Homo sapiens: one gene and its partners. The protein of the gene in region 1 purifies or fractionates together with the protein of each later gene. This does not show direct contact. Each region holds a gene or a part of one and is shown in the gene's direction. Other genes may lie near its edges.

What was found.
Region 2: the proteins of APLNR (region 1) and EXOC6 purify together in Homo sapiens (affinity purification with mass spectrometry; 2 studies listed by BioGRID and IntAct, with this or other methods). This does not show direct contact.
Region 3: the proteins of APLNR (region 1) and SLC29A1 purify together in Homo sapiens (affinity purification with mass spectrometry; 2 studies listed by BioGRID and IntAct, with this or other methods). This does not show direct contact.
Region 4: the proteins of APLNR (region 1) and HIP1R purify together in Homo sapiens (affinity purification with mass spectrometry; 2 studies listed by BioGRID and IntAct, with this or other methods). This does not show direct contact.
Region 5: the proteins of APLNR (region 1) and CUEDC1 purify together in Homo sapiens (co-immunoprecipitation; 2 studies listed by BioGRID and IntAct, with this or other methods). This does not show direct contact.
Region 6: the proteins of APLNR (region 1) and SPG7 purify together in Homo sapiens (affinity purification with mass spectrometry; 2 studies listed by BioGRID and IntAct, with this or other methods). This does not show direct contact.
Region 7: the proteins of APLNR (region 1) and ELOVL5 purify together in Homo sapiens (affinity purification with mass spectrometry; 2 studies listed by BioGRID and IntAct, with this or other methods). This does not show direct contact.

What each region holds. Positions count from the first base shown.
Region 1 is NC_000011.10:57,234,451-57,238,453, reverse strand, and holds the start of APLNR (apelin receptor), read left to right. Parts: upstream 1-1,203; 5' UTR 1,204-1,449; coding exon 1,450-2,592; 3' UTR 2,593-4,003. UniProt on the Homo sapiens protein: G protein-coupled receptor for peptide hormones apelin (APLN) and apelin receptor early endogenous ligand (APELA/ELA), that plays a role in the regulation of normal cardiovascular function and fluid homeostasis.
Region 2 is NC_000010.11:92,854,919-92,858,850, forward strand, and holds part of EXOC6 (exocyst complex component 6), read left to right. Parts: intron 1-3,932. UniProt on the Homo sapiens protein: Component of the exocyst complex involved in the docking of exocytic vesicles with fusion sites on the plasma membrane.
Region 3 is NC_000006.12:44,229,869-44,233,800, forward strand, and holds part of SLC29A1 (equilibrative nucleoside transporter 1), read left to right. Parts: intron 1-38; coding exon 39-178; intron 179-478; coding exon 479-613; intron 614-699; coding exon 700-797; intron 798-942; coding exon 943-1,021; intron 1,022-1,495; coding exon 1,496-1,593; intron 1,594-2,129; coding exon 2,130-2,238; intron 2,239-2,474; coding exon 2,475-2,560; intron 2,561-2,938; coding exon 2,939-3,138; intron 3,139-3,548; coding exon 3,549-3,660; 3' UTR 3,661-3,932. UniProt on the Homo sapiens protein: Uniporter involved in the facilitative transport of nucleosides and nucleobases, and contributes to maintaining their cellular homeostasis. Functions as a Na(+)-independent transporter.
Region 4 is NC_000012.12:122,845,326-122,849,257, forward strand, and holds part of HIP1R (huntingtin-interacting protein 1-related protein), read left to right. Parts: intron 1-2,705; coding exon 2,706-2,769; intron 2,770-3,140; coding exon 3,141-3,283; intron 3,284-3,470; coding exon 3,471-3,527; intron 3,528-3,932. UniProt on the Homo sapiens protein: Component of clathrin-coated pits and vesicles, that may link the endocytic machinery to the actin cytoskeleton. Binds 3-phosphoinositides (via ENTH domain).
Region 5 is NC_000017.11:57,881,981-57,885,912, reverse strand, and holds part of CUEDC1 (CUE domain-containing protein 1), read left to right. Parts: intron 1-33; 5' UTR 34-348; coding exon 349-684; exon of another isoform or gene 685-741; intron 742-3,932.
Region 6 is NC_000016.10:89,528,471-89,532,402, forward strand, and holds part of SPG7 (mitochondrial inner membrane m-AAA protease component paraplegin isoform 1 precursor), read left to right. Parts: intron 1-1,006; coding exon 1,007-1,109; intron 1,110-2,212; coding exon 2,213-2,338; intron 2,339-3,433; coding exon 3,434-3,596; intron 3,597-3,932. UniProt on the Homo sapiens protein: Catalytic component of the m-AAA protease, a protease that plays a key role in proteostasis of inner mitochondrial membrane proteins, and which is essential for axonal and neuron development.
Region 7 is NC_000006.12:53,275,801-53,279,732, reverse strand, and holds part of ELOVL5 (very long chain fatty acid elongase 5), read left to right. Parts: intron 1-2,661; exon of another isoform or gene 2,662-2,740; intron 2,741-3,476; coding exon 3,477-3,554; intron 3,555-3,932. UniProt on the Homo sapiens protein: Catalyzes the first and rate-limiting reaction of the four reactions that constitute the long-chain fatty acids elongation cycle.

The sequences.
Region 1 (4,003 bases):
CCTACATCATCCATCCACTTACTCACTCAACAGCCATTCACCTGGCTGGGCGTGGTGGCTCATGCCTGTAATTTCAGCACTTTGGGAGGCCGAGGTGGGTGGATCATCTGAGGTCAGGAGTTTGAGACTAGCCTGGTCAATCCCCATCTCTACTAAAAATACAAAAAAATTAGCCTGCAATCCCAGCTACTAGGGAGGCTGAGGCGGGAGAATCGCTTGAACCCAGGAGGCAGAAGTTGCAGTGAGCCTAGACCAGCCTGGGCAACAAGAGTGAAACTCTGTCTCAACAAACAAACAAACAAACAAAACAGCCATTCACCTACGACATGCCAGGTACTGTATTATGTTCGTGTTTGGAGAAGAAGAAAAGCAAACAATCAACTGTAGCATAATTCACTTTATTACCTTGGGCAAAACATTGACCTTGTTGGGCCTTTGTTTCCTACAGATTTAATGACTTGTTTAGAGATAATTTTGTCCTGGGTTTCTTCCATCCTGTGACTGCCCTCAACCTTCTAAAGCATCCTGTGCCTTCCGCAAACTGCAAACTGCAGTCTACACTAGTGTAGGGGTATTTCTCTAGAAACCACAAAAGTTCTCAGAGGGAGGGTCAAAGCCAAGGGGTAGAGAAAGATGAAGCGAGAGGCAAAGTGGGAGAAGACCCTCCTGTGACACCTGGTCTGGGTGGGGGCTGGGGGTGCAGGAAGGGAGCCGAGGGGGCCAGACCTGCCTGCCAGGAGGACCTGCCAGATGCCCTGCCCATCCTGCGAAATCTTACACCCTCCTTGCTCCCTACCAGCCCTGGCTCCAGCTCAAGCTGGATTGCAATCTGCATAATGTGTCCCATTTAGATTGGATGGAAGGGGGTGAGAACAGGAGGGCGGAGAGCACTGAGGAGGGAGTGCCCTAAAGGGCAGGCAGGAAGTGGTGGCCAGAGGAAAGTGGAGGGATAGGGGCTGGGGTGAAGGTGGGTGGCAGCCAGAAAGGAGAGGCGGGGCCAGGAAAGCCGACTTGCAAAACCACAGATAATGTTCAGCCCAGCACAGTAGGGGTCAATTTGGTCCACTTGCTCAGTGACAAAAAGAAAAAAAAAGTGGGCTGTCACTAAAGATTTTGACTCACAAGAGAGGGGCTGGTCTGGAGGTGGGAGGAGGGAGTGACGAGTCAAGGAGGAGACAGGGACGCAGGAGGGTGCAAGGAAGTGTCTTAACTGAGACGGGGGTAAGGCAAGAGAGGGTGGAGGAAATTCTGCAGGAGACAGGCTTCCTCCAGGGTCTGGAGAACCCAGAGGCAGCTCCTCCTGAGTGCTGGGAAGGACTCTGGGCATCTTCAGCCCTTCTTACTCTCTGAGGCTCAAGCCAGAAATTCAGGCTGCTTGCAGAGTGGGTGACAGAGCCACGGAGCTGGTGTCCCTGGGACCCTCTGCCCGTCTTCTCTCCACTCCCCAGCATGGAGGAAGGTGGTGATTTTGACAACTACTATGGGGCAGACAACCAGTCTGAGTGTGAGTACACAGACTGGAAATCCTCGGGGGCCCTCATCCCTGCCATCTACATGTTGGTCTTCCTCCTGGGCACCACGGGCAACGGTCTGGTGCTCTGGACCGTGTTTCGGAGCAGCCGGGAGAAGAGGCGCTCAGCTGATATCTTCATTGCTAGCCTGGCGGTGGCTGACCTGACCTTCGTGGTGACGCTGCCCCTGTGGGCTACCTACACGTACCGGGACTATGACTGGCCCTTTGGGACCTTCTTCTGCAAGCTCAGCAGCTACCTCATCTTCGTCAACATGTACGCCAGCGTCTTCTGCCTCACCGGCCTCAGCTTCGACCGCTACCTGGCCATCGTGAGGCCAGTGGCCAATGCTCGGCTGAGGCTGCGGGTCAGCGGGGCCGTGGCCACGGCAGTTCTTTGGGTGCTGGCCGCCCTCCTGGCCATGCCTGTCATGGTGTTACGCACCACCGGGGACTTGGAGAACACCACTAAGGTGCAGTGCTACATGGACTACTCCATGGTGGCCACTGTGAGCTCAGAGTGGGCCTGGGAGGTGGGCCTTGGGGTCTCGTCCACCACCGTGGGCTTTGTGGTGCCCTTCACCATCATGCTGACCTGTTACTTCTTCATCGCCCAAACCATCGCTGGCCACTTCCGCAAGGAACGCATCGAGGGCCTGCGGAAGCGGCGCCGGCTGCTCAGCATCATCGTGGTGCTGGTGGTGACCTTTGCCCTGTGCTGGATGCCCTACCACCTGGTGAAGACGCTGTACATGCTGGGCAGCCTGCTGCACTGGCCCTGTGACTTTGACCTCTTCCTCATGAACATCTTCCCCTACTGCACCTGCATCAGCTACGTCAACAGCTGCCTCAACCCCTTCCTCTATGCCTTTTTCGACCCCCGCTTCCGCCAGGCCTGCACCTCCATGCTCTGCTGTGGCCAGAGCAGGTGCGCAGGCACCTCCCACAGCAGCAGTGGGGAGAAGTCAGCCAGCTACTCTTCGGGGCACAGCCAGGGGCCCGGCCCCAACATGGGCAAGGGTGGAGAACAGATGCACGAGAAATCCATCCCCTACAGCCAGGAGACCCTTGTGGTTGACTAGGGCTGGGAGCAGAGAGAAGCCTGGCGCCCTCGGCCCTCCCCGGCCTTTGCCCTTGCTTTCTGAAAATCAGGTAGTGTGGCTACTCCTTGTCCTATGCACATCCTTTAACTGTCCCCTGATTCTGCCCCGCCCTGTCCTCCTCTACTGCTTTATTCTTTCTCAGAGGTTTGTGGTTTAGGGGAAAGAGACTGGGCTCTACAGACCTGACCCTGCACAAGCCATTTAATCTCACTCAGCCTCAGTTTCTCCATTGGTATGAAATGGGGGAAAGTCATATTGATCCTAAAATGTTGAAGCCTGAGTCTGGACGCAGTAAAAGCTTGTTTCCCTCTGCTGCTTTCTTAGATCTGCAATCGTCTTTCCTCCCTTCTTTCCTTGTAGTTTTTCCCCCACCACTCTCTGCAGCTGCCGCTCCTTATCCCTGCCTTCTGGCACCAATCCCCTCCTACAGCTCGTCCCCCTCCCTCCATCCATCCTTCTCCCCTGTCTACTTTCTTGTTCTGAAGGGCTACTAAGGGTTAAGGATCCCAAAGCTTGCAGAGACTGACCCTGTTTAAGCTTTCTATCCTGTTTTCTGAGTGTGAGGCAGGGAATGGGCTGGGGCCGGGGGTGGGCTGTGTGTCAGCAGATAATTAGTGCTCCAGCCCTTAGATCTGGGAGCTCCAGAGCTTGCCCTAAAATTGGATCACTTCCCTGTCATTTTGGGCATTGGGGCTAGTGTGATTCCTGCAGTTCCCCCATGGCACCATGACACTGACTAGATATGCTTTCTCCAAATTGTCCGCAGACCCTTTCATCCTTCCTCTATTTTCTATGAGAATTGGAAGGCAGCAGGGCTGATGAATGGATGTACTCCTTGGTTTCATTATGTGAGTGGGGAGTTGGGAAGGGCAACTAGAGAGAGAGGATGGAGGGGTGTCTGCATTTAGTCCAGACACTGCTTGGCTCGCTCCCCGAGTCCTCCTGTTTCTGACTTCCTGCATAACTGTGAGCTGAAGGGTTTCCTCATCTCCCCATCTTACCCCATCATACTGATTTCTTTCTTGGGCACTGGTGCTACTTGGTGCCAAGAATCATGTTGTTTGGGATGGAGATGCCTGCCTCTTGTCTGTGTGTGTTGTACTTATATGTCTATATGGATGAGCCTGGCATGAACAGCAGTGTGCCTGGGTCATTTGGACAAACCTCCTCCCACCCCCCAATCCACTGCAACTCTGCTGTTCACACATTACCCTTGGCAGGGGGTGGTGGGGGGCAGGGACACACTGAGGCAATGAAAAATGTAGAATAAAAATGAGTCCACCCCCTACTGGATTTGGGGGCTCCAACGGCTGGTCCGTGCTTTAGGAGCGAAGTTAATGTTTGCACCAGGCTTCCTGTAGGGAGATCCCTCCCCAAAGCAGCTGGCGCC
Region 2 (3,932 bases), on another chromosome or scaffold:
TCTATTCATGTGGTACATTACATTGATTGATTTCCTCATGTTTAATTACCCTTGCATTCCTAGGATAAATCTCATTTGGCCATAGTGTATAATCCTCTTTAATATACTGTTGGATTTGGTTTGCTAGTATTTTATTGAGAATTTCTACATCTATATTCATGAGGGATTTCTGTAATTTTTTTAGAGACAAAATCTCACTGTGTTGCCCAGACTGATCTTGTACTTCTGGCCTCAAGCAGTCCTCCTACCTTAGCCTCCCGAGTAGCTGGAATTATAGGCATGAGCCACTGTGCCTGGCATGAAAATTTTTTTTTTTAATTTATGTTTGAGACAGGATCTTGCTACATTGCCCAGGCTGGTCTTGAACTCTGGAGCTCATGCAGTTCTCCCACCTCAGCCTCCTGAGTATCTGAAACTACAGGCATGTTCCACCATGCCCAGCTCTGTAATTTTCTTTTTTTGGTGATGTCTTTATCTGGCTTTGGTATCAGGGTAATGCTGGCCTTATAGAATGAGTTAGGAAGTGTTCGCTTCTCTTCCACATTTGGAAGAGCTTGTGAATGATTAATGTTAATTCTTTAAATATATGGTAAAATTTTCCAGTTAAGCCATGTGTATTTTCTTTGTTGGGAAGTTTTCGATTACTGATTCCATTTCATTACTTGTTAAAGGTATACTCAGATTTTCTAGTTTTCTTGAGTTAGTTTTGATAGTTTGTGTCTTTCTAGGAATTTGTTGTGTTTCATTTAGATTATTTTAGTTGTTGACATATAATTGCTCATAACTTTTTCTTATTTTTATTTCTGTAACATTCTCTCTTTTGTTCTTGAATTTAGTAATTTGAGTCTTTGTTTTTGCTTGGTCATTCTAGATAAAGGTTTGTCAATTTTGTTGATCTTTTCAAAGAACCAACTCTCTGTTTTATTGATTTTTTTCTCTATTGTTTTTGTTTTTTCTTTTTTTTGAGATGAAGTCTTGCTCTGTTGCCCAGGCTGGAGTGCAGTAGCGCGATCTTGGCTCACTGCAACCTCCGCCTCCTGGGTTCAAGCGATTCTCCTGTTTCAGCCTCTCGACTAGCTGGGATTACAGGCACATGCCACCATGCCTGGCTAATTTTTATATTTTTAGTAGAGATAGGGTTTGCCACGTTGGCCAGGCTGGTCTTGAACTCCTGACCTCAGGTGATCTGCCTGCCTTTGCCTCCAAAATTTCTGGGATTACAGGCATGAGCCACTGCACCTGGCCTCTCTATTGTTTTTCTGTTACATTTACATCTGATCTAATCTTTATTACTTTCTTTCTTCTGCTTGTTTTGGGTTGGGTTGCTCTCTTTTTTATTATGATGGAACCCAACCTTACGATGGAAGTTTGGGTTATTAATTTGAGATCTTTCTTATTTTTTAATATTGGTTTTTACAGCTATAAATTTTTCTCTAAGAACAGCATTAGCTTCATCTAAAACTTTTTGGCATGTGTGTTTTCATTTACCTTTCTTCAAAATATCTTTAGTTTTCCTTATTATTTCCTCTTTCACTGGTTATTTAGAAGTGTGCTTAATTTCAACATATTTGTGAATTTCTAAAATGTCCTTCTGTTATTAATTTCTAATTTAATCCCATTGCAGTCAGAGATAATAATTTGTATGACTTCAGTTTATTTTAAGTTTATTGAGGCTTATTTTATTGCCTAACATAGTCTGTACTGGAGAATGTTCCATGTTCCCTTGAGAAGACTGTGTATCCTACTGTTGTTGGAGGGAGTATTCTATAGAGGTCTGTTAGGTCTAATTAGCTTAGAGTATTGTTCACGTCTCCTATTCCCTTTTGGTCTTCTGCTTAGTTGTTCTATCCATTATTGAATGATGAGTAGTTTTTATGTCTTTTCAGGCTCTGTTGTTAGATGCATATATGTTTATACTTTATATATTCCTTATTGATTGACCATTTGCCGTCATAAAATATCCTTTATTTCTAGACTTGTTTTAAAGTCTGTTATGTCAGATATTAGTATAGCTGCTGCAGCTTTCTTATAGTTGCTCTTTTCATGATATATGTTTTTCTGTTTACTTTTAAATATGTCATTAAATCTAAAGTGTATCTCTTGTAGATAGCACATCATTGGATCTTATTTTTATCCAATTTGAGAACCTATGCCTTTTGATTGTTTATTCATATTTAATGTTATTATTTACATAGTTGGATTCACATCTGCTGTTTTTCTTGTGTTCTATGTCTCATTTCTTTCTTCCTTTTTTTTTTTGCTCCTCTATTCCTTTTTTACTGCTGCTTTTGCATTAAGCAAATATTTTCTGGTGTAATATTTTAATTAGTGATTTTTTGGGAATTTAGAAAAAAGTTAGTTCTTAGTGGTTGCTCTCAGAATCTACTTCAGAATTAGTCTAATTTCCAGTAAGGTATAGAAATGTTACTCTTATATAGCTATATTCCTTCTTTCCCTTTTTTTGTGTTATTACAATAATACATTACTATAATTGTTACTTTTTATAATTTTTTGTCTTTTAAAGAAGCAGAAAGAAGAACAGAGACCAATATGTATTTTTAAAGTTTGTTATATTAAGTTTCTTATTTACTGTTTCTGATTCTTTTCATTTGTTGCTGGGTTTTTAGTTGTCATCTTGTGTCATTTTCTTACTCCAGAATGGCTTTGCTCCCACATACATCCTTTGTGTTGTGATTGTCCATTGTATTACATATATTCTATATATATTTTATATGTTGCATGCCACCAATACAATTATGTACATGTAGTTTTATGCAACTGCTTCCACAAATCAGATAAGAAATGAGAAGTATGCATTTATACTGTATTTTATAATTACATAGTTACCTTTACTGGTGTTCTTTGTGTGTGTCTGTGTGTGTCTGGTCTGTGTGTCTGTGTGTGATCAAATGGTCATCTGAGTTCACTCTTAATCGTGAGGAAATTCCTTTTGTATTTCTTGTAAGGCTGGTCTGCTTGAAACTATTTCCTGTTTTTTTTGTTGTTGTTGTTTGTCTGTTTTTTTAAAATCTGGGCATGTCTTTATGTCATCTTCATTTTTGAAAGATAGTTTTACCATATGTAAGATTTTTAGTTGACGGGTTCCCCCCCTCCGCCGGCCAGCAGTTTGAATATGTCTTTCCACTGCCTCTGGGCTTCATTATTTCTGATGAGAAGTCAGCTGTTAATCTTATTGGAATTCCCTTATGTAATCAGCAGTTTCTTGTTGTTTTCAGGATTTTCCGTTTGTCTCTCATTATTTTACTATGATGTACCTGGATATGGATCTCTTTATGTTTATCTTACTTGGAGTTTGTTGATCTTCTTAGATATGTAGGTTAATGTTTTTCATCAAATTTTGGAAATTTTAAATTATTTCTTTAAATAGTCATTCTGTTCCTTTCTCTTCTCTACTTTGGTGCTCCCATCTCATGTATGCTGGTGTGCTTAATGATGTCCACATTTATTTGAGACTCTGTTCATTTTCCTTATTCTTTTTTCTCTCCTGTTCTTTTTTCTCTCTTACTGTTTTTTCTCTCTTGTTCTCTGATTGCATAATCAGACTGTCTTGTATATTCACTGATTCTTCCTTCTGCCAATTCACATCCACTGTTGGGACCCTCCAATGAATTTTTCATTTATGTTACTGACTTTTCAACTCTGGAATTTCCAATTATTAAAAAAAATAATTTCTACTTCTTTATCCATCTCTATTTGGTAAGACATTGTCATCATACTTTCCTTTGCTTCTTCTTTTTAGTTCTGTGAGCATAGTTATTATGGCTGCTTTGAAGTCTGCTACATCCAACATCTGGGCCATCTCATAAGCAGTTTCTATTGCCTATTTCTTTCTTTCGTTTTTTTTGAGACAGAGTCTTGCTCTGTCACCCAGGTTGGAGTGCAGTGGCACAATCTTGGCTCACTGCAACCTC
Region 3 (3,932 bases), on another chromosome or scaffold:
GCCCACTTGTCTCTGCCACCCTTGGCCTCTCCCGGCAGGATCCCCCAGTCCGTACGGATCCTGGGCAGCCTGGTGGCCATCCTGCTGGTGTTTCTGATCACTGCCATCCTGGTGAAGGTGCAGCTGGATGCTCTGCCCTTCTTTGTCATCACCATGATCAAGATCGTGCTCATTAATTGTAAGCTGGGCCAGGAGGGGGCCTATGGGAGGAGGCATGCCCAACTACCCCCACTCTTTTTTCAGACCCAGCGTTAGCCAGAGAGAAGCCCAGCCTCCGCCTGGAGGGAGTGGATGCTGTGAGCAGCTGGGATTCAGAGGCCTGAGTGGGCCTGGACCAGGGCTGGGAGGGGGCAGAGAGAAGGGCAGCTCAGCCTCAAGGCTCACCAAGAGTAAAGTAGGAATGACAGGGATCTGTCTTCTTGGGCACCCCCAACCACCAGCCCTAGCTCCCCTGCTCATGCCCGCCCTGTTTCCCCAGCATTTGGTGCCATCCTGCAGGGCAGCCTGTTTGGTCTGGCTGGCCTTCTGCCTGCCAGCTACACGGCCCCCATCATGAGTGGCCAGGGCCTAGCAGGCTTCTTTGCCTCCGTGGCCATGATCTGCGCTATTGCCAGTAAGTCCGGCTATCTACCTGCCCAGTGCCCTGGTGTGGTGGGGAGAGGGGATGGGGCCTGTCTCTGATCACTGACACCACCCCAGGTGGCTCGGAGCTATCAGAAAGTGCCTTCGGCTACTTTATCACAGCCTGTGCTGTTATCATTTTGACCATCATCTGTTACCTGGGCCTGCCCCGCCTGGTGAGTAAATGGAGGGAGCTGGGGTTTGGGGTATAGGGGTCTGGGGTTCCAGACCACGGGTGTTCTGAGGACAAAACCTGAAGGAGGCCGGGATTCTGGAGATTCTGCCTCTAAATCCACCTCCCCCGTCTCCCTTACTTGATAGGAATTCTACCGCTACTACCAGCAGCTCAAGCTTGAAGGACCCGGGGAGCAGGAGACCAAGTTGGACCTCATTAGCAAAGGTCCGAAGAGCCTGAGGAAGCTGGGGTGGAGGATGGTATACCAGGCGGGGGATAGCATGAGCAAAGAGAACAAAGATGAGTGCCCTGTGTTAGCTAGCAGCCCTGAGCCAGAGGAGGACTGAAGGACTACAGCAGGGAGAGGGGGACAATAGGAAATAAGGGCCGGCAATGATAAAATGGGGGCAGATCCTGGATGACCTTGAATGCCTGAGGTGTTTGGACTAAAGGCAGTGGGAAGCAATTTCAGATTCTTGAGTGAGGAGTAACATGACCTGAGGCTCCTGGGAGAGGCCAGGCCCCCGGGTCTTGAGTTGTAGGGATTTGGAGGCGAGGTCTGGGTTAGGGTTAGAGTACGGCTGGGACTGGTTAAGGAGGCGTCTACTTTCAAGTAATCCCAGCCGTTTTGGGGAATGTTTATGTTGTCTTCTGTTGCTCTGTCTTCCCCACAACTTGGAGATTTCTTCCATCCCGCAGGAGAGGAGCCAAGAGCAGGCAAAGAGGAATCTGGAGTTTCAGTCTCCAACTCTCAGCCCACCAATGAAAGCCACTCTATCAAAGCCATCCTGAAAAATGTACGTAGGGGAGGTTATCCTATCTTCTACCCCTTGTCCTCTTTCTCTCCTCCTTTTGCTCCCTCCCCCTGCCACCCATCTCCTCCCTTTCTGACCTGAGAGTGGTCACTCCTGGATTCTTTTGTGTGTGCGTGCGTGCCCATGCGTGCGTGCCGGGGGTGGGGATTCGTGGTTCCTTTTTTTTGAGACAGAGTTTCACACTTGTTGCCCAGGCTGGAGTGCAATGGTGCAATCTCCACTCGCTGCAACCTCCATCTCCTGGGTTCAAGTGATTCTCCTGCCTCAGCCTCCCAAGTAGCTGAGATTACAGGCATATGCCACCATGCCCGGCTAATTTTTTGTATTTAGTAGAGATGGGGTTTCACCAGGTCAAGCTGGTCTCAAACTCCTGACCTCAGGTGATCCACCCACCTCGGCCTCCCAAAGTGCTGAGATTACAGGCGTGAGCCACCACGCCTGGCCTGGATTCGTGGTTCTTTAATGCACAGCCACCATGAAGACACAGGCATTTGGGTGACTCTACCCCTTCTATCTAGATCTCAGTCCTGGCTTTCTCTGTCTGCTTCATCTTCACTATCACCATTGGGATGTTTCCAGCCGTGACTGTTGAGGTCAAGTCCAGCATCGCAGGCAGCAGCACCTGGGGTGAGGATGCCACAGGTTTCCAGGATGGGAACAGACAGGATCTTGAGTTGGGCTGGAAGTGGGGAAGGGAGGGAGCCTGGGTCACCTTCTCCCCGTTTCCTGGGTCCATTTGCCCTTCCCTGGGCTGGAAGCATCTTCTCCATTTTACTGTTGGGGAAGCTGAGGCCCAGTGAAGGTTAGGCTTGCTATACCTGCCTCTGTGAGCCTGATAACCACCCGTTCATCTCCTCTTCCAGAACGTTACTTCATTCCTGTGTCCTGTTTCTTGACTTTCAATATCTTTGACTGGTTGGGCCGGAGCCTCACAGCTGTATTCATGTGGGTAAGTGGAGGAAGAGGGCCCCAGGCCCCTGTGGGAAGTAAGAGTCCAGCCTGGACCCAGAGAGGGAACCCAAGAAAGTATGGTAGTAAGGGGACCATTTGTTTTAAAGTCGAGGCATAATTTATGTATAGTTAAGTACAAGTCTTAAGTGTACAACTTAATGAATATATGTATATACACATACCTGCCCAGATCGAGATGTAGAATATTTCCAGCACTCCAGAAGGCTCCACCATGCCCCTTTCAAGAGTAACCCCCTAAGGAGAACCAGGCTTTGAGGTTTCAGTTCAGATCCTGAGGGGCCCCAGATGGATCCTTGGGGGCCTGGCTGTGCCCTGGGGTGGCGGCCTGGGCTGAGGCCCTGCCTGGTGCCCACAGCCTGGGAAGGACAGCCGCTGGCTGCCAAGCCTGGTGCTGGCCCGGCTGGTGTTTGTGCCACTGCTGCTGCTGTGCAACATTAAGCCCCGCCGCTACCTGACTGTGGTCTTCGAGCACGATGCCTGGTTCATCTTCTTCATGGCTGCCTTTGCCTTCTCCAACGGCTACCTCGCCAGCCTCTGCATGTGCTTCGGGCCCAAGTGAGTAGGGCTGGCAGGGAACTTGGTGGCATCAGACAGGATCTAGAGTTCCAGTGGGGGACACTCAGTAGAGGGAGGGCAAAAGGAGAGTCCCTGCTCCCAGAGCTGAGAGGAGAGATGGCTCAGGAGGGGCTCCCAGGCTGAGGGGATAGTGACTGTAGTGGAGGGGGGCGCCAAGCTTACTTGGGTGGAGGTGGAGACAGGTTTGCAGGAAGGAGTGAAAGACAACCCCACCATACACGTTCCCTCAAGGAGGAGAAGCCAGGTTGGGGTTAGGCAGCCAGGATGGGTTGATCAACAGAATGAGGTTCGACAGTCAAGTTGCTCCACCCCACCCCTCCTTCCACCCAGAGGCTCTGGGCTGGGGTACAGCCATTCTGAGGTAGCCTTGCCCTTCCTTCCCCGCTTAGGAAAGTGAAGCCAGCTGAGGCAGAGACCGCAGGAGCCATCATGGCCTTCTTCCTGTGTCTGGGTCTGGCACTGGGGGCTGTTTTCTCCTTCCTGTTCCGGGCAATTGTGTGACAAAGGATGGACAGAAGGACTGCCTGCCTCCCTCCCTGTCTGCCTCCTGCCCCTTCCTTCTGCCAGGGGTGATCCTGAGTGGTCTGGCGGTTTTTTCTTCTAACTGACTTCTGCTTTCCACGGCGTGTGCTGGGCCCGGATCTCCAGGCCCTGGGGAGGGAGCCTCTGGACGGACAGTGGGGACATTGTGGGTTTGGGGCTCAGAGTCGAGGGACGGGGTGTAGCCTCGGCATTTGCTTGAGTTTCTCCACTCTTGGCTCTGACTGATCCCT
Region 4 (3,932 bases), on another chromosome or scaffold:
GTGCCTCCTTGTGTGGCGCTCTGAGCCTGGTGCACACATCTGCCCATCCTAGACACAACGGGGCTGTGTTCCCAGAGCCAGCCGGCACCCTGCCCGGGAGGGCCCTGCTGCCACGGATCCTGTCCCCTGCCGCCAGCGCGGGGAGCAGGCAGCACTGAGGCCCAGGCGCACAGGAGACCATGCCATGTGCCCAAGGCATGCCCCGTCACACTGCATTCCTGGGGCCTCCCTCCTGCCATGAAAGTCATTTGCATGCCAGGCACTGTTGAGGAGCTGGGGGTTCAGCAGCACCTATAGGCCGATCTGCTTCCCCTCGTGTTGCTGACTGCTGGGTGAGGGGAGAGGGTGATAAATAAGGAAACACTCCACTGTCTGAGGGTGCCCGGCCCTCAGAGACCATCCATCCAGAAGGTGCAGATTTCAACAGGGCGGCTGCAGGAGGGTGTGAGGGTGCCGGGTGCGGGGAGCTGGAGCTCTGCTGAGTGGGCATCTGGAGCCTAGGGCCTGGGGACACGGGTGGCTGCACCTTGGCCTCACTGTGTCTTTCCTCGCAAAGAGGAGAGGGCAGCCCATTCCCCCAGAATGTGTTCTCTGCTTCTAGGGTCCCTATCTCAGCCCCATCCCGGGGTTTCCTCAGTGTCAGGAGAAACCCCCGCATCTCTGTGTCTACAGCCTCTCTGGTGCCAGGTCTGCACCAGTCACTTCGCCTCCACCCTTCTTGCCAGGAATCTTCCGAACCAGGTGGCAGCTCAGGTGTCGGCAGCTGGGGATGGGGTTACACACCCCGGAGACGGACACGCCTGGCTTGTGACAGGACAGCTGCTTGCCAGTGAGCTGGGGAAAGTCACAGCCCCTGCCTCCTGCCCTGGGAGCCCCTCCCCACGGGAGGAACTGCCTGGGGGCTGTTCAGAGTCACTAAGGACACAGGTTGTGGAATCAGACAGACCTGGCTTTGAACACTGCCTTTATCCTTATTAGCTGTACAGACAAGTATATAAGCCTTCTGTGCCTCAGTTTCCTCACCAGGAAAATGGGTTAGTCACCACTTCCCTGGGCTGTTGCTGGGAGGCGAGTTGCCCATGCCTGGCTGGGGCTGGGCACTCAGGATCCTTATCATCATAGCTGCTGTCGTGAGCAATATTCTGCCTCTGGGGGCATGACACTCTCAGCCATGGCTTCTCACAGTTGGTGGATACGAGTTTGTTCAAGGAAGGAGCTGAGGCCTGGGGGCCACTGGCTGGGCAGCCCTCAGGATCAGGCCCACCAGAGCCTCTGTGCATTTCCTCAGGTCGTGGTTCCTTGAGATGGGACCGCAGCTCCTCCCCGACTACAGGGAGCAGGGCTCAGGGCAGCCCCAGGACACCTGCCTGGGAGGGTCCAGTACAATGGGCCCTGTGTGTGAAAGGGGGTCAGCATCGTGCTAGGGGCCGGGGGCGGCCCAGAGGCTGCCTGGCCCAGCCCCGCAGTCCCCTAGCTCCCATCTGAGGTCCCACCAGGTAGGGCCCCCCAGCTTCCCGGGCTGGCTTTTCTCACAGAGGAAATTCCACAGTAGACCCTAATTGGATGTCCTCTGCTCCGGTGTTGGGTGGGAGAGTGCAGTGGTGTCTGGGGAGAAGGCGCAGGAGCGCTGCACTGTCCTGCAAGCCGGCTCCCTGCCCTTCAAGGCCTGCCTGGCTTAGGCCAGCCTGTGGCTCAGGAGCCCAGCTGCCCTGGCTGAGGCTGGGGGCTGCGTGTCCCATCTCAGTGTCTGCATCTGTCGAGGCCCTGTCCCTCCCGCCCATGGCCTGGACAGCTCTTCTCAGGTCACAAACATTGGTGGTGGGGGACAGAGGTTTAGCAGACCTGTTCCCTGCATGAGAAATACCCCATGCCCCACGGAGCCAGGGCCGGGTTGTAGTGATGGTACCGCCGTGAGCCCTCCTCGAGAGCACAGTCACGTCCAGGAAGCCTACTCGGAAAAGGAGGCAGTAGCCGGGGCGGGGGGGGAGGGGTGAGACTGCCATAGGTGGAGCGGGAGGGATGCTGAGATTCTGGCCTTGGTCAAGTGTGAAGGTGCCACTTGCGCAGCTCCGGGTGACAGCTGCAGACCCCACTCCTGCCTTCCTCCGCCCCTGGCTGGGCTGCAGGTGGCAGCAGGAGCTTGACACAGTTTGACAGGGTGAGGCCCCACCCAGGAGAGGGGCAGCCTATGGGGCAGTGGGCCACAGGCCCTGGGCTTTGCCTAAGTTTCCTGGGAATGCCTCCCAGGAGAGTGGGGACAATGTGATGTGCACCCTTCATGGGGTGCCGCAAAGGCCAGGTGGGCCCCAGCCGGGGGCTCCAGTCTCAGCTGCTTTTCCCCAAGGGGAGATGGGGCCGGAGGACACCACACTGGGCCATGACCTGGGGCTCAGGGCACCACATCTGCCAGGAGAGTCAAGTCGTGCAGGTTTTGGGCAGGATGGCCTCCCGGAGCCATAGCCCAGCTTTGGTCCTTGTCCCCTGACTCCTGGAGCTCTTGGTGTTCACTGTAGTTCCAGCTGCACCGATCAGGCACAGGGAAGTCCTTCAGAAGCTTAGGTTGAGGGGATTCCTGTCTCCCCCATCGCTCCACTGGCCTTGAACCCAGGCAGAATCCTGTTCAGTATTGTGCTTCTCCCCCTTGGGGTGGTGTCTCCTGGGGTGGCTGCCTGGGGCTCTAAACACTGCTCCTTTGTCCCTCACAGGCCATCAGCATCAGCAAAGCCATCAACACCCAGGAGGCCCCCGTGAAGGAGAAGCACGCCCGGCGTATCCTTGGCCGGCTCTTGGACCCAGGAGTTGGGTGTGGATGTGGGAGCAGCGTAGTGCTGCAGGTGGCCTGCGGTCAGCTGTGCCGGGGTCACAAGTTCCCTCACTGAGCCCGGGGAGGAGGGTCCTGTGCAGCTTGGCTCCTTCCCATCTCAGTCTCATCACAAAAACGCCCCCATTGGGCCCAATGATTTCCTTGTCTTGCCCTAACTCCTGTCCCCTTGGCTGGACACTGGAGCTCTGGTGACCCGGGGTTGATGGGCACGTGATTGGGGGCCGGCCCTCTTCCGGCGGCCCTGGCCTCTCTCAGCCGGGTTTGCTGAGCCCCCGTGCTCCAGTCTCTGCTTCCACACTTGGCCTTGACATTGCAGGCATCATTCTGGGCACACACCACGAGAAGGGGGCTTTCACCTTCTGGTCCTACGCCATTGGGCTGCCGCTGCCCAGCAGCTCCATTCTCAGCTGGAAGTTCTGCCACGTCCTCCACAAGGTCCTTCGAGACGGGCACCCCAATGTGAGTAGCAGCTGCTGCCTCTGCTCCCCGGAGCTGGGGCACTGTCCCGCGGACATGCGGGCTCTGGCCCTGTTCCTGTCCCCGTAGCTCCGGGCTGTTCCTCCCGCCTCGGGTGGGGAGTGCGTGTCTCAGGGCCCTGCCACACGGTCCTGGACACTCCCCCACTCCCGTATTCCCTGCGCTGCAGGTGCTGCATGACTGCCAGCGGTACCGCAGCAACATCCGGGAGATTGGAGACCTGTGGGTAGGTCCAGCCATTCTAGGTCCTGCCTGGCATTCGGGGCTTTCCTGAGCGTGTGGGGCTGAGCGAAGGGTGGCTCCCTGTGGGCAGTTCCCTGCGGGTGGCTGGGTTTTCCCAGGGGCGACAGTGGGAGGGGCAGCACGGGGAGATGCTGCCTGCCTTTGAGGGCCTGGCCCAGGGCGCTCCACACGCATAACCAGTGGGCCCTCCAGCGTCGAAGTCACCCGGGCCCTTTAGTCCTCACGAGTTGGGAAATGTGGCAAGACCACAGCCCGGGCACCTCGGTGGTTAGAGAGCCTGTGGCAGGGCGCAGGTTCCTGGGCTCCCCCAGACCTGCTGCTGAAGAATCAGGACTGGAGGTCTGCATTTTGAGCACACACACAGTAAGGCCTGAGAGCCCTGGGGGGC
Region 5 (3,932 bases), on another chromosome or scaffold:
CCTCGGCCCTGACTCCATCTCTTTCGGTTTCAGGTGGGACCATCCGTGAAACCGGTGCCAGGATGCACCGGGGGTGTGGATGACCGGCCGCCCAGCCCCAGCACGGCCCGGTCCCGCATGCCACCGCCCCGCGAGGACCGCTCTCCAAGGGCTGCCTGGGGCCCCGCGCCCGTACTCTCCTAACCCGGAGCTCTTGGCAGCCCATTGCTGCCTGGCTACCCGGGGAGGAGGAGGCGCAGGAGTGAGCTGCCCGAGACCGCAGGGCAAGTAAGCGGCTGACGGCGGAAAGACCCTGGGGAAGGGGCTTTGCGGCCGGCTAGAAACATTTTCCCCAAGCGGCTCCGCAAAATGACCAGCCTGTTCCGCCGGAGCAGCAGCGGCAGCGGCGGGGGTGGCACCGCCGGGGCACGCGGGGGCGGGGGAGGCACGGCCGCCCCCCAGGAGCTCAACAACAGCCGGCCTGCCCGCCAGGTGCGCCGCCTGGAGTTCAACCAGGCCATGGACGACTTCAAGACCATGTTCCCCAACATGGATTACGACATCATCGAATGCGTGCTGCGCGCCAACAGCGGCGCTGTGGACGCCACCATCGACCAGCTGCTGCAGATGAACCTGGAGGGCGGTGGCAGCAGCGGCGGCGTCTATGAGGACAGCTCCGACTCGGAGGACAGCATCCCCCCGGAGGTAGGGGCGCAGCCCGGGTAATTCCAACCACCACTGGAGGACAGCATCCCCCCGGAGGTAGGGGCACGGCCCGGGTAATTCCAACCACCACTGGAACCTCTAAGAGGACCTGGGTTACTCCGCTATCTGGGTTCTAATTAGCAAGCAGCCTTACTTCCCCTAGGGAAAAGTACCATCCGTCAGTCACCTTATTTTATGGGCAGAAATCATGCAGTCATTCAACAAACACTGAGCGCCCACTCAGTGGTGTGCGAGACGTGGCACTAGACCCTGAGTCAGGAGGCATCAGAATCAAGGTGCTTGTTAAAAATGCAGGTGCCTGGGCCCCACCCCAACATACTGAACTCCACATCAGGCGTAGAGTCCGCTAGTGGCCAAGTCAGACCAAATTTCTGCCCTCCTGGAGCTCACAGTCCAGTGTGGACTAGAAGCGCGAGTCGGGTACTGACGGCCAGAGTGGTAAGTGCTCGATGGAGACGTGGAAGCAGCAGAAAGGAGTGACTTCCCAGAGGAAGCGATGGCTAAGCCGAAACCCTAAGCTGAGACCCAAAGGAAGAGTGAAGCCGGGGGAAGGGTGTGCAGGCAAAGGGAACAGCTTGTGCAGAGTCTGGGAGGTGAAATAGTGCCTCACTGGCTAGGGAACTGGCAGCAGGACCATCTGTCAGGGTCCTAGAGTGAGAGGAGATCAATGAGGTTGACAAAGCCCTGACGCTGAGAAAAAGAGTGCGGCTGGGGCCGGGCGAGGTGGCTCATGCCTGTAATCCCAGCACTTTGGGAGGCCGAGGCAGGTGGATCATGAGTTCAGGAGTTCGAGACCAGCCTGGCCAATATGGTGAAACCCCATCTCTACTAAAAATACAAAAATTAGCCAGGCGTGGTGGTGCGCACCTGTAGTCCCAGCTACTCGGGAGGCTGAGGCAGGAGAATCGCCTGAACCCGGGAGGCAGAGGTTGCAGTGAGCCGAGATCATGCCACTGCACTCCAGCCTGGGTGACAGAACAAGGCTCCGTCTCAAAAAAAAAAAAAAAAAAAAAAAGAAAAGAAAAAGAGTGCGGCTGTATCCTGGGAGCATAGCCACGGAAAGGGAGTGAGGAATCAGACTTGCCAGTTAAATCCCTCTGACTGTGGCCTGATGGAAACAGTAGTGAGCCATAGCCAAGCAGTCTCTCCAGGGAAGTGGCTGGAGAGAGGGGACCTGCGTACTGCATCAGTACCCACCTGCTGGAGGTTGTGAGTCCTTTCCAGTCCCACCCGAGTTCAGTGGACATCTGGCCACCCAGTATCAGCAGAGCCTGAGGTGCTTGGTGCAGAAGGATGAGGCACACAGAGCCTGTTAATCAGAGGGGTGTTGTCCACAGGGCCATCTGGGACATGCAGCCATGGACAAGACCAGGACCCAGCAGGATTTAACTCCACTCTTTATTGAGTCCCGACCCGTGCCAGGCATCATCCTAAGTGCTTTAGATGTATCATATCTTCTTTTTTTGTTTGTTTTTTTGTTTTTTTGAGACAGAGTCTTGCTCTGTCGCCCAGGCTGGAGTGCAATGGCGCGATCTTGGTTCACTGCAACCTCCACCTCCCAGGTTCAAGCGATTCTCCTGCCTCAGCCTCTCGAGTAGCTGGGACTACATGCATGTGCCATCATGACCGGCTAATTTTGTAGTTTTAGTAGAGATGGGGTTTCACCATGTTGGCCAGGCTGGTCTCGAACTCCTGACCTCAGGTGATCTGCCCGCCTCGGCCTCCCAAAGTATTGGGATTACAGGCATGAGCCACTGCACCTGGCCCGATGTGTCATCTCTTCTAATCCTCACAAACTTTGTGCTGTGGCATTATTATTACCCTTGTTCATCAGCCATCCTGCAGGGCAAAGTCTCCTTGCTTTTCCTCCTTAGTGGGTGCTGCTGAGACTTCCCCTAGAGGTGGAAAAGCTCTGTTGGCCAAGACATCTGGCTCATCCCTGTGTCATCTGCAGCACCCAGGACAATCCACGCACATAGCAAGCACTCAGGGAGTGTTTGTTGAATGAGTACGTGTTGCTGCTGTCTTTGTACAGTTTTCTATTGTCTCTCTCCTTGGGAGACCACTCCTTTGATCTGCTTGGAGTAGGTGGTGGAAGGAATATTGGAAAATATGGATCCTCTTTGTAGAAAGAAGGAGAGAGAGAGAGTGAGAGTATGCGTATGTATGTGTGTGTCTGCAGATACAGTTGACCATTGAACAATGCAGGGGTTAGGGGCAGTGAATCCTCCCCTTGCAGTCAAAAATCCACTTTTTAATATAACTTTTGATTTTCCCAGAAATTGACTGCTAATAGCCTATCGTTGACCTCAAGCCTTAACTCAAGCCTTAACATAAACAGTCGACTAACATATATTTTGTGTGTTGTATGTATCATATACTGTATTCCTACAATAAAGTAAGCTAGAGACAAGAAAATGTTAAGAAAATCATAAGCAAGACAAAATATATTTTCTACTCATTAAGTGGAAGTAGATCATCGTAAAGGGCTTCATCCTCATCTTCTCACATTGAGTAGGCTGAGGAGGAGGGACAGGAGGGGTTGGTTTTGCTGTCTCAGGGGTGGTGGAGGTGGAAGAAAATCTACCTATAAGTGGACCCACGCAGTTCAAACTCTTGTTATTTGAGAGTCAACTGTATATGCTTTAAGTGTGAACTGGAAGGAAAGCTCTCTGCAAGCTCTGACCCTTTCTGCAGTCTGATTTGCCCTGACAGTCTGGCAGGTAGGGTAGTATTTTCTCCTTTGTCCATGGCCCCCACAGTCCTATAGACCTCTGCAAGGCTTCACCACCCCCTAGGTAGGCCCTTGCTGTGTGTGCACTTCTGTTTTTCTAAGAATCTTGCTCTCCAAATTGAGCCCCCTCCCGGTACCCCTCCCCTCCCTTGGCAGTCTCCCCAACCCCCCACCTTTGGAACTCTGCCTGGGCCCATAGGCAGGCAGCTCCTGAGCCAGCGGAAAGTGCTTCGGAAAATTTATGAGCCACAGCTGGAATGACAATAACTGCTGACTGGAAAAAAAAACCCTTTCTGGGGGCTGATGGATGGTGGGCTGGCCCGAGGGGTATCCTTGCCATGGAGAAGTATCTCCTGTCAGATAAATGGCCTAGACCCTGCCCCCTGGAGCACCTGGCAGGCATCCATCACCCACAATGAGTTAAGCCAGGAGGCTGCAGAGCCCAAAAACTTCAGCACCTTTAGAGCCAGAAGAACAACCTCTTTGTGGCGGT
Region 6 (3,932 bases), on another chromosome or scaffold:
AGAACAGAAGATGGAGGGTTGGGGCAGGCCCATTCTCGTGTCTTTGTAGGCTGATGATGTACAGAAGATGGAGGGTTGGGGCAGGCCCAGGGCAGCCCCTCCTCAGGATGAGGGCAAAAGTCCTGGGATTTGCTTTTTTTTTTTTTTTTTTTTGGAGTCAGGGTCTCACTCTGTCGCCCAGGCTGGAGTGCAGTGGTGCAATCTCAGCTTACTGCAGCCTCGACCTCCCAGGATCAGTGATTCTCCCACCTCAGCCTCCTGAGTAGCTGGGACTACAGATGCACACCACCACATCCAGCTAAGTTTTTTTGTATTTTTAGTAGACACAGGGTTTATTCTTACATTTTTCTTTTCTTTTTGAGATGGAGTCTTGCTCTGTAGCTCAGGCTGGAGTTCAGTGGCACGATCTTGACTCACTGCAGCCTTCACCTCCTAGGTTCAAGCATTTCTCCTGCCTCAGCCTCCCAAGTAGCTGGGATTGCAGACGCATGCCACCATGTCCAGCTAATTTTTGTATTTTTTTAGTAGATATGGGGTTTTACCATGTTGGCCAGGCTGGTCTCAAACTCCTGACCTTGTGATTCACCCGCCACGGCCTCCCAAAGTGCTAGGATTACAGGCGTGAGCCACCGCGCCCGGCCTGAGATTTGCTTTTTACTCTTAGGCTGATCTTGCCTGCCTGATTGAAGCTGATCGCTTACATTTGAAAACAAAATATACTGAAAATAGAAAAACCTGAACGTTGTTATTGTCACAAGGCTGGCTAGATCTCCGGCATCTGCACACTCAGTCTGACCATTTGGGAAGCTTTCATGAAAAAGCACAGTCAGCGAGAATGAGACGAGAGAACCCATTTCCACAACCATTTTAATCTGCGCATCGGTCCCAGACGTAGGGATTCCTCGTCTCATCTTGGAAACATTGCCAGCAGTGGTTCTGATTTGGAAGCCTGCGTCTGTCACGTGACACCGTCTGAGCCTGTGCCTGCCTCTCTTTCTTCCGGCAGTGCCCTGTACTCTGTGGGGATGACGGCAGTGGGCCTGGCCATCCTGTGGTATGTTTTCCGTCTGGCCGGGATGACTGGAAGGGAAGGTGGATTCAGTGCTTTTGTAAGTTCTGTAAATCAGAGCTCTCTGAACTCTTTCTGGTTTGTGTTTGCTGAATACTTTTCCCATAAGCTATACGATGAATACACAGGGAAAACCTGTTGCAGAGAGTAGCCTGAAGCCACAATTAGACAGCAGCTCACCTTCCTTTCCCATGGTCCGGCTGTAAGGCGTGTAGTAACCAATGTTGCCTGAGGGCCTCTCACCCCTAACTCTGGGGTGCCTGAGCCTTGTGAGATTACAGGGCAGTTGAATCTGCGTTTTTCTTTTCTTTTTTTTTGAGACGGAGTTTCGCCCTTCTTGCCCAGGCTGGAGTGCAGCCGTGCGATCTCAGCTCACCGCAACTTGCACCTCCCGCATTCAAGCAATTCTCCTGCCTCAGCTTCCCGAGTAGCTGGGATTACAGGCACGCGCCACCACGTCCAGCTAATTTTGTATTTTTGGTAGAGACGGGGTTTCTCCATGTTGTTCAGGCTGGTCTCGAACTCCCGACCTCAGGTGATCCTCCCGCCTCAGCCTCCCAAAGTGCTGGGATTATAGGCATGAGCCACTGCACCTGGCCTTTCTTTTTTGTGTGTGTGTGTGTGTGACAGAGTCTGGCTCTGTTGCCCAGGCTGGAGTGCAGTGGTGCGATCTCAGCTCACTGCAACCTCTGCCTCCTGGGTTCAAGCGATTCTCCTGCTTCAGCCTTCCAAGTAGCTGTGACTACAGGTGCCTGCCACCACACCCAGCTAATTTTTTTGTATTTTTGGTAGAGACAGGTTTCACCGTGTTAGCCAGGGTGGTCTCGATCTCTTGACCTCGTGATCCGCCCATCTCGGCCTCCCAAAGTGCTAGGATTACAGGCGTGAGCCACCATGCCTGGCTGAGTAATTTTTTTTAAAGCAAATTGCTAGATAAGTTTCTTACTAATTAATGACGAAACATTTCCCTTCTGTGCTTGAAGACTGACTGTGAGCCTCGTCAGCCTGACATGAGTGAAGCCTTGGGATCCTAGGATGGAGACGTGGGGTTGGGGCGGCTCAGGTGCGTGGGCTGAGCGCTGGCATCGTGCTGCTGATTTCCTGACTTCGCCCAGCTCCTTGCACTTTGTTCTTTCTGCACAGAATCAGCTTAAAATGGCTCGTTTCACCATTGTGGATGGGAAGATGGGGAAAGGAGTCAGCTTCAAAGACGTGGCAGGAATGCACGAAGCCAAACTGGAAGTCCGCGAGTTTGTGGATTATCTGAAGGTGAAAGCAGCGTGGGCCGGGAGGGAGGTGTGAGCAGAGGCCGGCCGTCCTCCTCTCCCAGAAGGGCTCCTGCGGGACCTGGAATTCCATCGATGACGTGTCGTGGGTTGGCGGTGACCTCTACCATGTCCCATGGGGACACCAAGCAGGTGCTGGTGCCTGTTCAACCAGCAGCACAAGCCTCGTGCACATGGTTCAGCCAAGCAGAGGCTGCCAAGACCCATGCCTACTGTGCCGTTAGCCGTCCTGGGCCCTTCATCCCTTGCAAAGCTCTGTGCTTTTTCCAGAACCACATAAACACCTTAGCCAGTTGGTGGCAGTGCATGAGCTGCCTATCACGTGCGTCACTTACACGTTTCCTCCGCGGGCCTGGTACGGTGGGTCGCACCTGTAGTCCTGGCACCTCGAGGGGCTGACATGTGTTCCCTCTGCAGGCCTGGTACAGTGGGTCACGCCTGTAGTCCTGGCACCTCGGGGCGCTGAGGCAGGGGAGTGACTGAGCCCAGGAGTAGGAGATCAGCCTGGGCAACAGTGAGACCCTGTCTCTGCAAAACATTTTTTTATTTAATTAATTTTTTTTTTCGAGACAGAGTCTCACTTTGTCACTCAGGCTGGAGTGCAGTGGCACAATCTCGGCTCACTACAACCTCCACCTCCCCAGTTCAAGTGATTCTCCTGCCTCAGCCTCCCGAGTAGCAGGGATCACAGGCGCCCACCACCATGCACGGCTAATTTTTGTATTTTTAGTAGAGACGGGGTTTTTCCATGTTGGCCAGGCTGGTCTCAAACTCCTGATCTCAAGCTACGCGCCTGCCTCAGCCTCCCAAAATGTTGGAATTCCAGGTGTGAGCCACCGCACCTGGCCTGCAAGAAGTTTTTAAAAGTAGCTGGGCGTGGTGCCACATGCCTGTATATTCCCAGCTACTCGAGAGGCTGAGGTGAGAGGGTGGCTTGAACCCAGGAGTTTGAGGCTGCAGTGAGCTATCATGGCACCCACTGCACTCCAGCCTGCGTGACCCAGAGAGACCTTACCTCTAAAAAACAAAAAAACGGAATCCCCAAGTAGTTAGTGTTGCATTGTCTGCTGCCGTCCAGAGCCCAGAACGCTTCCTCCAGCTTGGCGCCAAGGTCCCAAAGGGCGCACTGCTGCTCGGCCCCCCCGGCTGTGGGAAGACGCTGCTGGCCAAGGCGGTGGCCACGGAGGCTCAGGTGCCCTTCCTGGCGATGGCCGGCCCAGAGTTCGTGGAGGTCATTGGAGGTAGGTGCTGTGGTTGGGGGCTGTGGGTGGGCTTGGCTGACTACCTGGCTCCTTTCACACATCCTTCCTCTGGTGTCTGGACTGAAAGGGACACGGGTGGGTGGGGGAGTAGAGAAGGAAAGCGAGGTCTGGGTTGGCGGAGGGGTTTTGTCTGCGAAGCACATGATGTTTGCTTCAAAGCCACCGTCACTTGTGGCCTGGGGGGCCAGCACGGTGCGTGTGAACCCTGAGGGGTGGCCAGGGGCCCCCGCGAGCAGCTGCCGTGTGTCTGTTTGTAGGGAATGGAGCTGGTAGCTTTAGTTGTCCTTGGTGTAGAACTTTGTCTGGCCCGGGTAC
Region 7 (3,932 bases), on another chromosome or scaffold:
AGTTTTCATCTTGTGAACAGAGTTCAGATGAATATGATCACAAAGTCAAGCCTCGTTTAAAATACTATGAAGCTCTCTTTATTGCTGCACATGAAACATTAGGCCTAGATTTAGGGGAAAGAATTGGCAGTCTTGAACTCTTTGTCATTTGTTTAGCAAATATTTGTTTGACATCTCTGGTACGCTAATCCCTGTGCTGGAATATGTTGATGCAGATGCAGGAGCCACAGTCACCACCCTTCGAAATCTTACAGAAGAGCACACAACAGGCCCATTAACAAAGGGAGCATGTGAGCAAACAGCTACAGGTCACTGCAAGGTGAGGGTAGAGGAAGGAGAATAGACCTCAGGCTCTAGTGCTCAAGGGAGTAATCATGAAGAAAATAGAATTTTAACTGAACTTTGAAGGATAGATAGGATTTTGAGAGCTGGAGATGGGGGTACATAGGTGCAGAGGGCATTCTAGTTGAAAAGAATAAAACAGTGGTCACTGCCAACACTTATGTTTAATCCTATGAACCACATTGGGTGAGACAGGCATTATGTACTTCATGGTGGGAGCCTTATGTTTATCCCATTTGAGGACTGAGAAAACTGAAGTTTAAAATGTTGGAATACCTTAGCTAAGGTCACCTAGCAAAACGTGAAAAAGCTAGGGTTTAATGGGCTAATGCCCAAACCCATGCTCTTTCCCCTTGGCTACTGTGTAGCGGTTAAGGAAGGGCATGTTTGGAGAATGGGAAGAGGTCCAATTTGTGTGCACGTAGGGGAGAAGTGAAAGATAAGCTTGGGACCACGTTGTGGAAGACTAAATACCTGGACACTGCACCTAGGATTCAGGGTTTCATTCTGAAGGCAATGATGACTCACTGGAGGGTTTTAAATATGGAAATATGGAATTCAGTGGTTTGAGGGGCACAGCGGCCCCAGTGGAAGTGTGGTAGGTGTGAGTAGCAGTGGAGGGAGTGTTGCATTGAAGCATGACAGAGCTCCTACAGGGAACCTCAACAGGTGGAAGAGGAATGGTGGGCCTAGGTCAAGTGGAGTGGCACCGAGTGAGCAGCTTCTTGTGTGTATACCTGGTTTATGCTTCAGGAGTGAAAAAAGTTCACCACCCAATACTGAGGTTTGAGTTCTTTAACTAAACTCCAAAGACAACAGGTGTTTTATACATGGATTCCCCTGCCCCATTTATGGGTGGGGAGAGGGCAAATGGAACGTTAGGTTAACTAGTTTAAAGAGTCAAGGCAATCCCACCTGGATCCCTTCTTAAAAAGGAAGCCTGTGTCCAAGAGTCCCTTCTGCTGAGTTAACAAGACCCCTTCAACCCGTTCTCATCTTTGGGATTGAGGCGCCTGCAGAATTACAAGAGAGGATTTGTCCTCCTCTTCTCCAGAGAGCTACCTTGATTTTCCCCACCCCTGCCAAGATAGACATTCATGAATGCAGTCATCCACACCTCCACAAGTGCACACACACCAGCCATCCTATTTTAAAACAGACAAAAGCAAAACCAACCCAGGATGTCTCTGGACACCATAAACCAAAATAGTCGCTGGAAAAAACAGTGATGGTAGGTTCCAGATTTAAGATTCATAAAATGGTAACATTTCCAAAAATATCTCTGATGAAGACAGTCATATGTTAGTACGTTTTTAATTTTGCCAAGAGAGGCTGCTGTTTTAAAAAAGAGGATCTTTTACATTGCACGAATTTATCTTCATGAAAACCTTACTGCGTTGTCCTTATTTTTCTTATTCGCGGTTGTCCCACAAACATTTCATCAAGAAGCACCAGTTTCCTTTCTGTACCCTCAAGCCACAGGAGGTAGTTCCTTGGTTCCCTCCTGGGGTAGAAAGAAGGGCAGCAAAAAGAGCACTGTGCTAAGCTGGCCCTTCCCTCTCCACCCCAGGTCTCAAGAGTGCATGCCAGCTTCCTCCCCCGACCTCCAACGCACTTTGGATTCAGACTTTGTGTCTTGCTTCTTAGGACTTCTGATCAGCCTGCATGGATCCTGCTTGACTGGCCATGACTTTAGAGAGTAGTAGAAGACAGAAAAGTTAATACACCTTCTAATGAATTACCATGTGGGTACTGATCTTTCAAAGATAGTATAGAATAGTTTGTTGTGTGGTCTGTTTTTAAAGTCTGTTAACATGAAGCTACAGAAATTTGGAACAGACCCTTTAGAGATAATTTAGTCCAACCTCATCATTTTATAGTAAAAACAACAAAAGCCCACAGGAATTAGCTGGCTTGCCCCAGGTGCTGGGCCTGGCACTCAAGCCTTCCTCCTAATTCCATGGCTCTTCATCATGAACTGATGCTTCTCCCATGCTAAATCCTTGTGCTCTTCTTTGGCCATGAAAAGCCTGTTAACTCTCAGTGCTTTTTTATGTGTAGAAGGTGACAAAGCAGAAGGAAAATGGCAAGAAGAAAGATAACCAAAGAAAAATCAGATAGAAGGCAGGATACCCAGCGTGAGTGCAGCGGCTACACCCATTTTTTGCCATTTATTTCTGATGTCAGACCAGGTGGAAATATCACAAGGTGTCTTCAGATCCTTGTAATCACCTCTTGTTCCCTGGGGGGGAATCTGTGTTGCTCGCCAAGCTAAACTCTTGTGTTCAAGGACAGGGAACACAAGAATTGGGGTGCAGACTCTACATCACAGCCCTGCAGTTATCACGGGCCCATTGAGGGGAGGGGCCCGTGATAACTGCTGGGCTGTGATGTAGAGCCTGTACCCCAGTTCTGGGGTCCTCTCTGTGACAGCATAGTGCCTACTGTGCTGCAAGTGATTCTGAGGCATGGGCACTTGTGAAGCCTTCAGTTTGTGAAGCCTAATTCATGGATCCGGAGGATTGTACATACAACAACAGGAAATAATGAAGATAAAGTTGGACTAAATTATCCCTGAGCCTACAGCAGTGGTTCTCAAAGTATGGTTTCCACATCAGCAGCATCAGTATCACCTGGACCTTGTTAGACATACAAATTCTAGGCCCCCAGACCTACTGGAACAGAAACACCCCCAGGGACCCATGTTTTACTAACTCACCCCTCAGGTAATTCTGGTGCTGCACACTCAAGTTTGAGGAGCACTGGCTTAGGGAAAGCAGCCAGAGGCTTCTGTGGGGCAGAGCAGGGAGCCTGTGATTGGCTTGGTCTGGGCACTTGTGCTAGGACCAAGGGGGTGACGGGCTGAGGGTTCTGCAGAGAAGCAGCGTGGTAAAGGAAGGTCTCTGAGGGCAGCAGCCTGGGAGTGACTTTTAAGCCCACCCCTTAGGAAATTGAGACTCAAGTCATTAAAGCTTTCCTTTTGTTTACACTTGCCTACAATTGTTTTTTCTCAGAGCAAACTTGGCTCAGCACAGCCCAAGGTAAATTATCACAGATTCTGCAACTAATAAAGTTCAATGAGGACTTTACATGGCTCAGATGCTGTTGGTGACTGGCTCTTTCTTCTTTTTTAGTTAGTAACAGGAGTATGGGAAGGCAAATACAACTTCTTCTGTCAGGGCACACGCACCGCAGGAGAATCAGATATGAAGGTACTGTCTCTTTTTCAGAAACTTTATTATTATAAGTGTTGAGTTTTTAAAAATAAATTGTATAAAATACAAAATGGCCCATAACCTCACTGCCCAGGCAATCCCTGTTGATATTTTTAAAAGAATAAAAAAGGCAATATATACACATCAAATTAAAATTTGAATGTGAAAGGTATAAAATAAAACCTAAAGCATCCCCCTCTGTAAAAATAACTCCGGTTAACAATTGGCAGGAAAAATCACATGCAGTCAGTATGTTATATTTACACAATCAGGATCATAAGAGCAATGTCTTAAATTTTTAAAATCATTCATCCAAGTACTTTTTTCCGAGTAGTGGTGTTAAAAATAAAATCTGACTTCCACTCATGAGGTTTG